Homo sapiens: one gene and its partners. The protein of the gene in region 1 interacts with the protein of each later gene in a biochemical or structural test. Each region holds a gene or a part of one and is shown on either strand. Other genes may lie near its edges. The genes, in order: IRAK1, IRAK4 and PPP3CB.

What was found.
Region 2: of the proteins of IRAK1 (region 1) and IRAK4, one has a biochemical effect on the other in vitro, tested with the Homo sapiens proteins (2 studies listed by BioGRID).
Region 3: the proteins of IRAK1 (region 1) and PPP3CB form a complex in vitro, tested with the Homo sapiens proteins (one study listed by BioGRID).

The regions. Positions count from the first base shown.
Region 1 is NC_000023.11:154,013,421-154,017,020, reverse strand, and holds part of IRAK1 (interleukin-1 receptor-associated kinase 1), read left to right. Parts: coding exon 1-72; intron 73-376; coding exon 377-584; intron 585-923; coding exon 924-989; intron 990-2,742; coding exon 2,743-2,979; intron 2,980-3,587; coding exon 3,588-3,600.
Region 2 is NC_000012.12:43,765,451-43,769,102, forward strand, and holds part of IRAK4 (interleukin-1 receptor-associated kinase 4), read left to right. Parts: intron 1-2,652; 5' UTR 2,653-2,661; coding exon 2,662-2,822; intron 2,823-3,652.
Region 3 is NC_000010.11:73,472,003-73,475,654, reverse strand, and holds part of PPP3CB (serine/threonine-protein phosphatase 2B catalytic subunit beta isoform), read left to right. Parts: intron 1-624; coding exon 625-736; intron 737-3,652. UniProt on the Homo sapiens protein: Calcium-dependent, calmodulin-stimulated protein phosphatase which plays an essential role in the transduction of intracellular Ca(2+)-mediated signals.

The DNA of each region.
Region 1 (3,600 bases):
TCTGGGTACAGCCCGGGCAATTCAGTTTCTACATCAGGACAGCCCCAGCCTCATCCATGGAGACATCAAGAGGTGAGGAGGGGCCCTTGAGAACTGCCGGGGCAGGGCCTGCAGCAAGGGGGGCCCCGCGTCCTATCAATGTGGGGATCAGGCATGGCCTGGGACCTCAACACCCCGGCATCGCACAGGTGTGGGAACGGGCCAAGGATGGGCCCTACTGATGAGCAGAGGCCCCCAGGCAGCTGGAGCGCTCAGGGCAGTGCCAGCGCTTTCTGTGGGCAAGGCACCGGGCTGGCAGCCTCGAGTCCAGCCTTATCTAAGCCGGGCAGGTGTAGGAGCTAGGACCGGGCTGACGCCACTGTCTTCTCTCCCCAAGTTCCAACGTCCTTCTGGATGAGAGGCTGACACCCAAGCTGGGAGACTTTGGCCTGGCCCGGTTCAGCCGCTTTGCCGGGTCCAGCCCCAGCCAGAGCAGCATGGTGGCCCGGACACAGACAGTGCGGGGCACCCTGGCCTACCTGCCCGAGGAGTACATCAAGACGGGAAGGCTGGCTGTGGACACGGACACCTTCAGCTTTGGGGTGGTGAGCCACTGACCCCTCTGCTGGCTCAGAGGAGGAGAAGCCACAGGCAGGCAGAGGTGGGGGCTGCAGAGTGCACTGCGGGCCAGGGGCCATCTGCCAAGACCCCAGGAGGCTGCAGCTCCAGGGTCCCCCTCCCTCCGAGGCCCTCCTCCTCACCCTGCACCTAACTGTGTGTTTGTAATTTGTCTTCAAGTGGGCTCTCCGAGTTGCCCGAGCTTCAGTCCCATAACATCTGGCTCTGCCTTTGTCCACACCCTTGTCAGGCCCAATCCATGTCCACACCAGAGGCCTCTTCCCTGCCAAGGCCACTGCCATGCTCTCCCTCTTCCCTCTCTCCAGGTAGTGCTAGAGACCTTGGCTGGTCAGAGGGCTGTGAAGACGCACGGTGCCAGGACCAAGTATCTGGTGAGCCCCTTGAGGCAGGGCCAGGAGGGACACACAGCTGCTGGCAGCCAGCAGGCACAGCCCCAGTGGCGGGGATAACTGGGGCGCAGTGCCCATGGATGCCTCTGCTGCCACAGTGGCCTCATTTTTGAAAGTAGGCAGGGCTCCAAACAACTTCGTTTACCTTGCCGAGGACAAACCTGTCTGTCCTGCAGACACTATGGGCCTTGTACAGACCCCACCTGGGCTGGGGGCAGGGGGAAGGGCGGTCCCAGGGCACTGAGACCCAAGCTGCAGTGGAACTCAGAGGACTCTGGCCGGAGAAAGGCGGTGGTAGAGAAGAAGCAGGCCCCGAGGAACCTCCTGGGCCCCAGCAGGCTGCAGCTGAGCTCTCCGCACCGTGCAGGGCAGCCTGAGCTGCCTCACGGTCTTACTCCACTCAGTCTGCCTCACCGTGGACTGTGGTGGGGCCAGGAGACTAGAGACCTGGGTTTTAGCCCCAGCCTGACAGTGGCCTTCCAGCAAATTCCTGCTCCCCTGTGGGCCTGTTTTCCCATATGCAAAACAGACTTCACAGAATGTGCTCAGCCAGTAATTGCTTCACTGCTTCTCCTCTTGTTTGGGGCGGTTCCTGTGTGCTGTGGGGTCTCCGTCAGGATTCAGCCCCGCTGAGAACCCAGGAGCCGGGCTTGAGCCCTCCTTCCTTTCCCTTCCCCGTCCGTCCATCCATGCATCCTGCTGAAGAAGCGCACCAGGCTCCTTGGGGGTCCTTGGACTTCCCCACTTGCTCCCCACCCTGCAGCCAAAGTGCTCTTTTCAAAGGCCCCTTTGCCTTTTCTCTGCTCTTGGGGTGAAGGCCCAGTCCCTTATGTGGTTGACCCCCCAACGCCCCAGGTCCCTGGGACTCGGGGCGCTCCCTGCTGCCTGCTTCACAGCCTTAGTATGTGCCGTTCGCTCTGCGAGAAAAGCCACCGCCCACCCAGGTGGTTCCTCCTGGTCTGTCTGATTTCAGAACTGGAGATGGCCTCCGGTCCTGTTTCCACCCTGGGGGCGCCTCTCTGCGGGGCGCCTCTCTCTCTGGGGTACCTCTTTGTCTGTGGGGCACCTCTCTGTGGGGCGCTTTCCTTCTCGGCTCTGCCCTCTCAGGCTACTTCCTGCCTTCAGACCCCAGCTCCATGGGGCTCTCCCCCACCAGGAAGTCAGCTCTGTCAAACCGGGTCCCAGGGTTCTGTTTGTTCCTGTATCCCTAGGGCCCAGAGCACCACTGGCCCACAGTAGGTGTTTAATAAATCTCTAGAAGCTACTCGGGAATCTGAGGCAGGAGGATCGCTTGAGCCTGGGAGTTGGAGACCAGCCTGGGCAACATAGCAAGATAGGCATGGTGGTACACACCTGTAATCCCAGCTGCTCGGGAGGCCGAGGTGGGAGGATCACGAGCCTGGGAGGTTGAGGCTGCACTGAGCCATGATTGCACCACTGCACTCCAGCCTGGGTGACAGAATGAGTCCCTGTCTCAGAAAAAAAGTAAGTTGTAGAAAGACCAAGAGCTGTGGCACAGTGTCTCACACCTGTAACACCAGCACTTTGGGAGGCTGAGGCGGGAGGATCACTTGAGCCTACTTGGAGACCAGCCAGGCCAACAAAGCGAGACCCCATCTCTTTTTTTTTTTTTTTTTTTTTTATCAAAACCCATACGATTGAGTGACAAGGACCTGAGGACTGCAGCTGCAGGTGTGGCCACCTGGTAGCCATACTGACAGTATTTATCCCACAGAAAGACCTGGTGGAAGAGGAGGCTGAGGAGGCTGGAGTGGCTTTGAGAAGCACCCAGAGCACACTGCAAGCAGGTCTGGCTGCAGATGCCTGGGCTGCTCCCATCGCCATGCAGATCTACAAGAAGCACCTGGACCCCAGGCCCGGGCCCTGCCCACCTGAGCTGGGCCTGGGCCTGGGCCAGCTGGCCTGCTGCTGCCTGCACCGCCGGGCCAAAAGGAGGCCTCCTATGACCCAGGTAGCCAGCTGCGCACTGGGACGGGGTGGCCAGATAGAAAGCCCGCATTCCAGGCCTTGCTCTGTAGTGACCCCATCTCAGCACCTGCTAGGTCTCTCTGGAGTCTCCACACATTTCTTGCTTGCCCTTTGGTTCTGTTTGGGGCAGCGCCCCTCTGAACTGAGGGGCCCCGGGCAGTCCTGCTTTGCGGAGCCCAGCTCCGACCCCCTTCACATAGAGAGAAGGAAAGAGCTGCTGCCGCGCCCCCTGCTGGGCGCACTGCACTACTGCATCTGCCTTTTTCTGTCCCCTCCCTAGTACCCCACCTCTTCTCCTCTGGTGACAGTTGAAAATGGAGAGGCCCCGTTTGAGGGCAGCGGGGCAGTGAGATTCATTTTGTAGAAAAGAACGAGGCCATTCTCAGTCCTTGCTTTTGGCAGCCGCGCTTCTCAGCACTCCCTGTGATGGGAACAGAGGGGCGAGGGGCAGAGCGTTCCCAGCTGCAGGGTATGTCATTTTAGAGCCCTGGGGCAGGTCACGGACGGCCTGGAGCAGCCCTGTGGTTTGCCCACGGGGTGACCGGCCAGGGCTGCCATCTCACCCTGAGAGTCCCTCTTTTCCACTTGCAGGTGTACGAGAGGC
Region 2 (3,652 bases), on another chromosome or scaffold:
TTCTTCCAACCAACCTCCACCATAAATGTGGTGTTTGTTCTTGCTTTAGTTTTAGCAGAATTCATGTTGCTGTGGTAGAGGTTCTTTTCAAACTGTCTTATTCTTCTCAGTGTCTCAACTAGATCCTGTTTAGACATGAATGATAAGTTAGTATGAGTTTATTTTGGAAATACATTTTGCAAAAAAAAAAAAATTGAAATCCATGCATGGTTTTTGCACGATATGCATTTTCCATGAACTCTTTGAAAACCCCTTATATATGAGAATACTTACATAATGAGCATTCTTTGCTGAAACCTCTCTCCTAAGCTCCAGACCACATATATAAGTACTTGGTATGAAGGCTCCTAGATAGTGCCAAAGGTAGATATTTCACATTTAACATGAGCCAAAAAAAAAAAAAAAACTTCATTCTATCTCCCTTTCTTCTAATCGCTCATCTCTAGTGAAATTGTTTTGATTTGGCCTCCTAAATGTTTTGACGTTTTACCTCTCCATTCCCCTACCCTATACTTTTTCCAAGCTCTCCTTTCTGCTCACCTGGATTATTGCAGAAGTTTTCAAACTAATTTTCTTGCCTCAATATACATCCCTTTGATTTTTATCCAGAGGAATCCACTTAACCATATAAGATTATTTAACATCCCTCCTAAAAATCCTAAAGTGGCTCTCCTGTAACTTTTAGTTTATAAGTTCAAACTCTTTGTCTTAGCACATGAGGTACATGATGATCTGGCCCTGCTACCTTTCCACCCTCATCTCTTCTCACTTAATCACAGGCATCCTGTGGTCCAGCCATAGCAAGCTCTTTGCCTGAGACACACATGCTCTTACCTTTTCCCATGCTATTCCCTCTGCCTGGAATTTTCTTTTGGGCTTATCCTCATTCCCTTTCATTCATCCTTCCAACCTCCTACTCCAACCAAATCTGTCTTGATATCCCTATTCCAGACTGCCTCTGCTTGATGCCCCTTTTCTGGGCCCCATAACATTCTTGCAGCATTTATCACTCCCTGTCACTGTTTGTATCCCCTGGTATACTGAACAGCTTGGAAACAAAGATTTTCTCTTCTCTGTGCTCCCACTTGTTAGTACAAAGACTGACATAAATATTTTCTGAATGTATTCATGAATGAAAGGAAAGGAATGGTCTTTCTGAAATAGAGAATGGCATGAACAATGCATTGTGTTATAAAAGCAGAGTTGTATGGCATGACTTTTGGAGTCAGACATAATTGTAAGTCCTGGATCTCTCACTTACCACCTTTGTAAAATAGAGATGATAAAACTGTACTGGGAAATAATTTAGTTGTTCCAAAAGTAAATACTGAACAATACCATTATCTACAGTATGCAAGTCACTAGGTGTATATTCATGAATAAAATTAGCATGGTCCTGAACTCATGGATCTTAAAATCGAATATGGGAGACAGTAAACAGGTAAACAAATAAGTATATGATTACAAATACATTGTGCAGTGATGAAAGATAATTAGGTGAAGGGCAGCTAGACCTATTTAGATGTGGTCAAAGAAGTCCAAAGAGAAGAAGTGAATACTAACATAGAAGCCTCTGATACAGAGAAGCTTTTCGCTTTTTACTCTTTTTGATAGTTTTAGAATGTTGTTCCATATGAACACATTATTTACTCTAAAATTGTATTTTTAAAATATATATAGGGAAGCAAAAATAATTGACAGAAGAATATCTGAGTCTATTTGTCTTAATTGGAAGGAAAGATCATTTCCTATTGAGAATGAGGGACACGCAGAACAAATAAAATCCACATAGAAAGAAGTAAAGGTATGAAATAGTCACTAAGGACTATGAGAGAAGACAAGTGGAAGGATTAACGGCAGTGTTGAAGGCCCTGTGGAAAGGGGGTTACCATAAATTTGTATTCACATCAGCAACCCTGGTGTACAAGTAAAGTTGTTAGATTTATCCCTGGCTGCAGCTCTCCAGGATGGAGTAGCAGAAGTAAAGGGGGATTGCAGAAATAAAGATTCTGTCTAGAGAGTAGTTGAAGTGGTGAAGCACAGGTTTTGGCGTAGTAGCAAATGAATTGTGGTCAGGCAGATCTCATGGACTCAAAAAATGTGCAGAGGTCAAGGAAGAGCAAAGTATGTGAAAAGTGGGTGGGTGGACCATATCTGTTAATGCTACACAAATCATTTCAGTACGTTTTTTTTTTTTACTTCTACCAAAGAATGTTGCATAAATTTTAATTGTAAATAAGTACTAATTGAGAAACATAAATTGAAAGGTAAATGTTTTTATTAATAGATTTGATTTCTGAATATGCTAATTCTGATAGTTTGTTGATATTACTCTTAAGAATTTTTCTGGTAAGTTTTTTGCCCCTTTCTATAAATTTTACTAGGAAAATATCAGTGTCAGAAAAAAGTCCTCCGATTTTTATTGCTATTAATGGGTGGAAAAAGGAAGCAAACCCAGAGGATAATTGGACAAATGAATTACAATTTTAATTTCATCTTAGGATATCAATGACTTGACTTTGGAATGTTTCTTTATTATGGTATAATCAGTTGCTGACATTTCATATGATATAGCAAAGTGTGATATATAAGCTTACAGATGTCATCTCTAAAAGTACTGTAAAATTTTAATGAGATTTTTCCATATTTTAGGAATAGAAGATGAACAAACCCATAACACCATCAACATATGTGCGCTGCCTCAATGTTGGACTAATTAGGAAGCTGTCAGATTTTATTGATCCTCAAGAAGGATGGAAGAAGTTAGCTGTAGCTATTAAAAAACCATCTGGTGATGATAGATACAATCAGTTTCACATAAGGTAACAGATAAAATTCTTTGTATTTTTAAATTCTTACATCACAATATGGAATGATTAATTGGTATAAGTACTGTCTAATGTGGCAGTTTAGAAAGTAAACCTCTCCACTATGGAGGAGACATTGGTAGTAGGTAACCTCTTTTTGATTGTTCCTTTTGCAGTTTTGTCTTCTTTGTCCCATATGTCAATAGGGCTAATACTGTGATCTCTCAAATAAGTTTTTTGGGTTAGAATCAAGATTCCCACCTTTGCTGTGGTTCCCTGTTTGGCAAGCCAAGTGAAGTTCACTCTGCCTCACACTTCTCATTTCCAGATTGAAGGAAAATAAGAATGTTACAAGAATGTCTGGTAAAAATCTAGAGCTTAAATTTCAAAGTGTGTGAATCTCTAACACACTCTAACAATGTATTTTGGGACTTTTTCAATTTGACGTTTTAAAGTTGTTGCTTACAAGTGTACACTTCTGTGCACAGAATTCTTAAATCTTAGCTAGGATTTCTCAGTGCTGTCTTCAGATAATTTCAATTTTTCCTTTTTACTCATCTCTGCTCAATTTAGTGTAAAATATGCATGCATATTTTATTTTTGTCAGTCATTGCAGTTAAAACCTATGTCAAAATGTTTCTTTGGTAGCAAAAGGAAAAGAAGACTATTTGTTATTTTCAGCATTAATCTGGGAAAGAACCTAAAAGACTTGGCTCCCTTGCAGGAAATATTTCCTCATAAGAAGAGCGAACATGTTAAATTACTTGAAAGAAGCTTAAGTTTAAACTGTGTTAAGCCAATGTTTAAAGATAATTTTTTGATATTACTGTTAAAAACTTATGGAA
Region 3 (3,652 bases), on another chromosome or scaffold:
TATGTAAGGCAATATTCATAATCAATGAAACAAACATAAAACATGGACCTTCCCTTCATGGGCAGCATGGCATAATGCTTAAGATCAGAGGATCAGAATCCTATCTCCATCACTTAGAAGTTTTGTGGTTTTGGACAAGTTACTTGAGATCTTTGCTTCAGTTTCTCATTTGTAAAATAAAGATGATATTACATACTTCATAGTGTTGTTTGAGGAATAAATTAGGGGAATTATATAGTGCTTCACATATTGTAAGTACTTAATAAATGTTAGCTGCTGTTATTTTGACAGTATTATTTACTAATACGCATCTGTAGACCAGTGTGCTAATTGTTTTTATATTGGGCAGTCTGTAAATCCAAAGTAATTAAATAGATTGTTTGACTCATTCATTCAACAAATATTTATTGCTCTTCTCCTATTTGCTAGGTACTCTTCTGGGAGTGGAGAATCAAAAGTGAATAAGATGACAAAATCTGTGATTTTGTGGTGCTTATATTTTAGTAAGGGACAAAGAAAGATAATAGAGGATGGTAAGGGTAGTAGAGGAAAAGGAGCAAAGATCAAGCAGCTTCATTAAACAAAAGTACAAGATAAATTCACTAGAAAAATTTTCTTTTGCAGTGTGTCTTATATTTATGGGTTCTGAAGATTCTATACCCAAGCACATTATTTCTTCTGAGAGGCAACCATGAATGCAGACACCTTACTGAATATTTTACCTTTAAGCAGGAATGTGAGTACTGCCAGAAGAAATGTTTTCACTTCCTCAGTATTCTTTTGGACTTAAGTGGGTAGTAAGAGTTTTGAAGACTTTACAGTGCAACATGTAAGGACAGATTTCATGTCCACACATAAAGCTTTGAGGAAAGTTGTCGAGCACTCTCTGGTGTTTAATGGTATTAAGAAGTTTTTGGTGGGGCATGGTGGTTCACGCCTGTAATCCCAGCACTTTGGGAGGCCCAGGCAGGGGGATTGCCTGAGCTCAGGAGTTGGAGACCAGCCTGGCCAACATGGTGAAACCCCATCTCCACCAAAAATACAAAAAAAAAAAATTAGCTGGGTGTGGCGGCACACTCTTGTAGTCCCAGCTGCTCAGGAGGCTGAGGTGGGAGGATCGCTTGAGCCTGGGAATCGGAGGTCATAGTGAGCTGAGATCATGCCACTGCACGGACAATTGCCTGGGCAATAGAGTCAGACCCTGTCTCAAAAAAAAAAATTTTTTTTCATTTCAGAATTTCTTATTATGTTTAACTTTTACAAACATACTTAGAGTTTTATATATAAGTTTTAATGTTACAATTAATTTTTCTAAGCCAGGCACGGTAGCTCACGCTTGTAATCCCAGCACTTTGGGAGGCCGAGGCGGGTGGATCACCTGAGGTCAGGAGTTCAAGACCAGCCTGGCCAACACGGCAAAACCCCATCTCCTAAAAATACAAAAATTAGCCAGGCGTGGTGACATGTGCCTGTAATCCCAGGTACTCAGGAGGCTGAGGCAGGAGAATCACTTGAACCTGGGAGGCGGAGGTTGCAGTGAGCCGAGATCGCGCCATTGTACTCCAGCCTGGGCAACAAGAGCGAAACTCTGTCTCAGGAAAAAAAAATGTATATATTTTTTCTAACAGGAAAAAATAAAAACCAAAAGAAAAAAATGTTATTTTGCATTGGAGATTTTTGTCCTTCAATCTTGAGGCATTCCTGTGAGGAATCCTAACAAATTGTTTATCCTGTTACCATTGCAGATCATTTCAATCATGCTATTAATGATTGAAATTCTTCTTAAAATTTTTTTGTTTTTTTAAATATCATTGTTTTAAGACTAGTCAGGTACAGTTGGTGAAATTCTTAACCTGCAATGTTTATCCCTTTTCTCTCTCAAATTATTATAGCAATGGTAATCTAATACCTGTAAGTAACCATATGTTACAGAACAAGATTAGGCCTTTTTCACACCTCAAACCTTTGTGCTTTTTTATTATTTTTGTTATTTTTATTTTTTTTTTGAGACAGTCTCGCTCTGTCGCCCTGGCTGGAGTGCAGTGGTACAATCTCGGCTCACAGCAACCTCCTCCCGGGTTCAAGTATTCTCCTGCCTTAGCCTCCCAAGTAGCTGAAATTACAGGCATGCGCCACCACGTCCTGCTAATTTTTGTATTTTTGGTAGAGGCGGTGTTTCACCATGTTGGCCAGGCTGGTCTCTTAACTCCTGACCTCAAGTAATCCACCTGCCTCGTCCTCCCAAAGTGCTGGGATTACAGGTGTGAACCACCGCATCTGGCCTGCCTTTGTGCTTTTTAAGTTAATATTTATGACTGTATTAAGTAGAGTTAAATTCTAAAAGCAGAAATAATTTCAACGTTTTGAGACTCAAAACATGATCCAATAAAGGTCATACTAAGTAGAGACTTGCAGCAACAGGAGAAAAATACAGTGATGGGTAGTGGCAGAAGTGGCATACTCTTATAACTTCAAGGATCAGGCAGTTAACCTAAATGAGTAAGATAAGACCTGGAAAGTGCATGCTTGACCTAAAAGCAGTCAAATTAGAATTTTTATTAAACCACAGTGCTAGAAAACAGAGTCGTTAGCAGACTGCCAGTGTAGAATCTCTGGTTGCTGGATATATATATAGTTTTTTTAATATTTGAATATTACAGTATTAAAACAGGAAATAGGAACTAAGTTCTTTTTCTTTGCCTAGATAAATAACAAACCACCTACCAAAATCTCATCAAAACCAAAATAGGAATTTAAAGTTGTAAAGGAGCAAATGAAAGTGCATGATATCTCTCTAAAAGTAAATGATAGTTTGATTTGGTAGAGTTTTGTCTTTCTTGTGTTTCTATATTGGCTTCCTGCTTCACTGCCCATTTTAAAGTATTCATTGTAGGCAAGAGGAACCCCTCAGCTTTTCTGACATGAGCATGCTATTATCTTTTATTTTTCAGAAAAAATGGATGAACCTTGAATTTTGTTGTGATGATGTAGTCATCTTGCCTGTAATAAGAATAAAGTAGTCATTGACTCTTAGAATAAAATAAAGCAAGTATTAAAATGATTTTAACCTCAAGTACAGTTCTAATTTTGCCTTATTTGGCCGATAAAGGTGAAGGGTTGAGCTGTTTTTAAGAGATTTCTTTCTTTTTTTTTTTTTTTTGAGACAGAGTCTTGCTCTGTCGCCCAGGCTGGAGTGCAAGTGGCACGATCTCGGCCCACTGCAGCCTCCACCTCCTGGGTTCAAGTGATTCTTGTTCCTCACCCATTGAGTCTCTGGGATTACAGGTGCACACCAGCATGCCTGGCTAATTTTTGTATTTTTAGTAGAGACAGTGTTCTGCCATGTTGGCCAGACTGGTCTCAAACTCCTGGCCTCAAGCGATCTGCCTGCTTTGGCCTGTCAAAGTGCTGGGATTACAGGCGTGAGCCACCGTGCCTGGCCTGTTTTTAGAGATTTGACTGACTTATTTTTAACAATACGTGATGACTTTTCTGTCATCCAAAATAATTTTAGAGAGCAAATATTTTGCTTCATAAGACATAACATCATCGAGAATAATTTTAGAGAGAGCAAATATTTTGTCTTCATAAGACAGATAACTTTGCATATTTTTGTTGATTCTTATAGGGGAAGATGCTTTCCTTAAAAAAA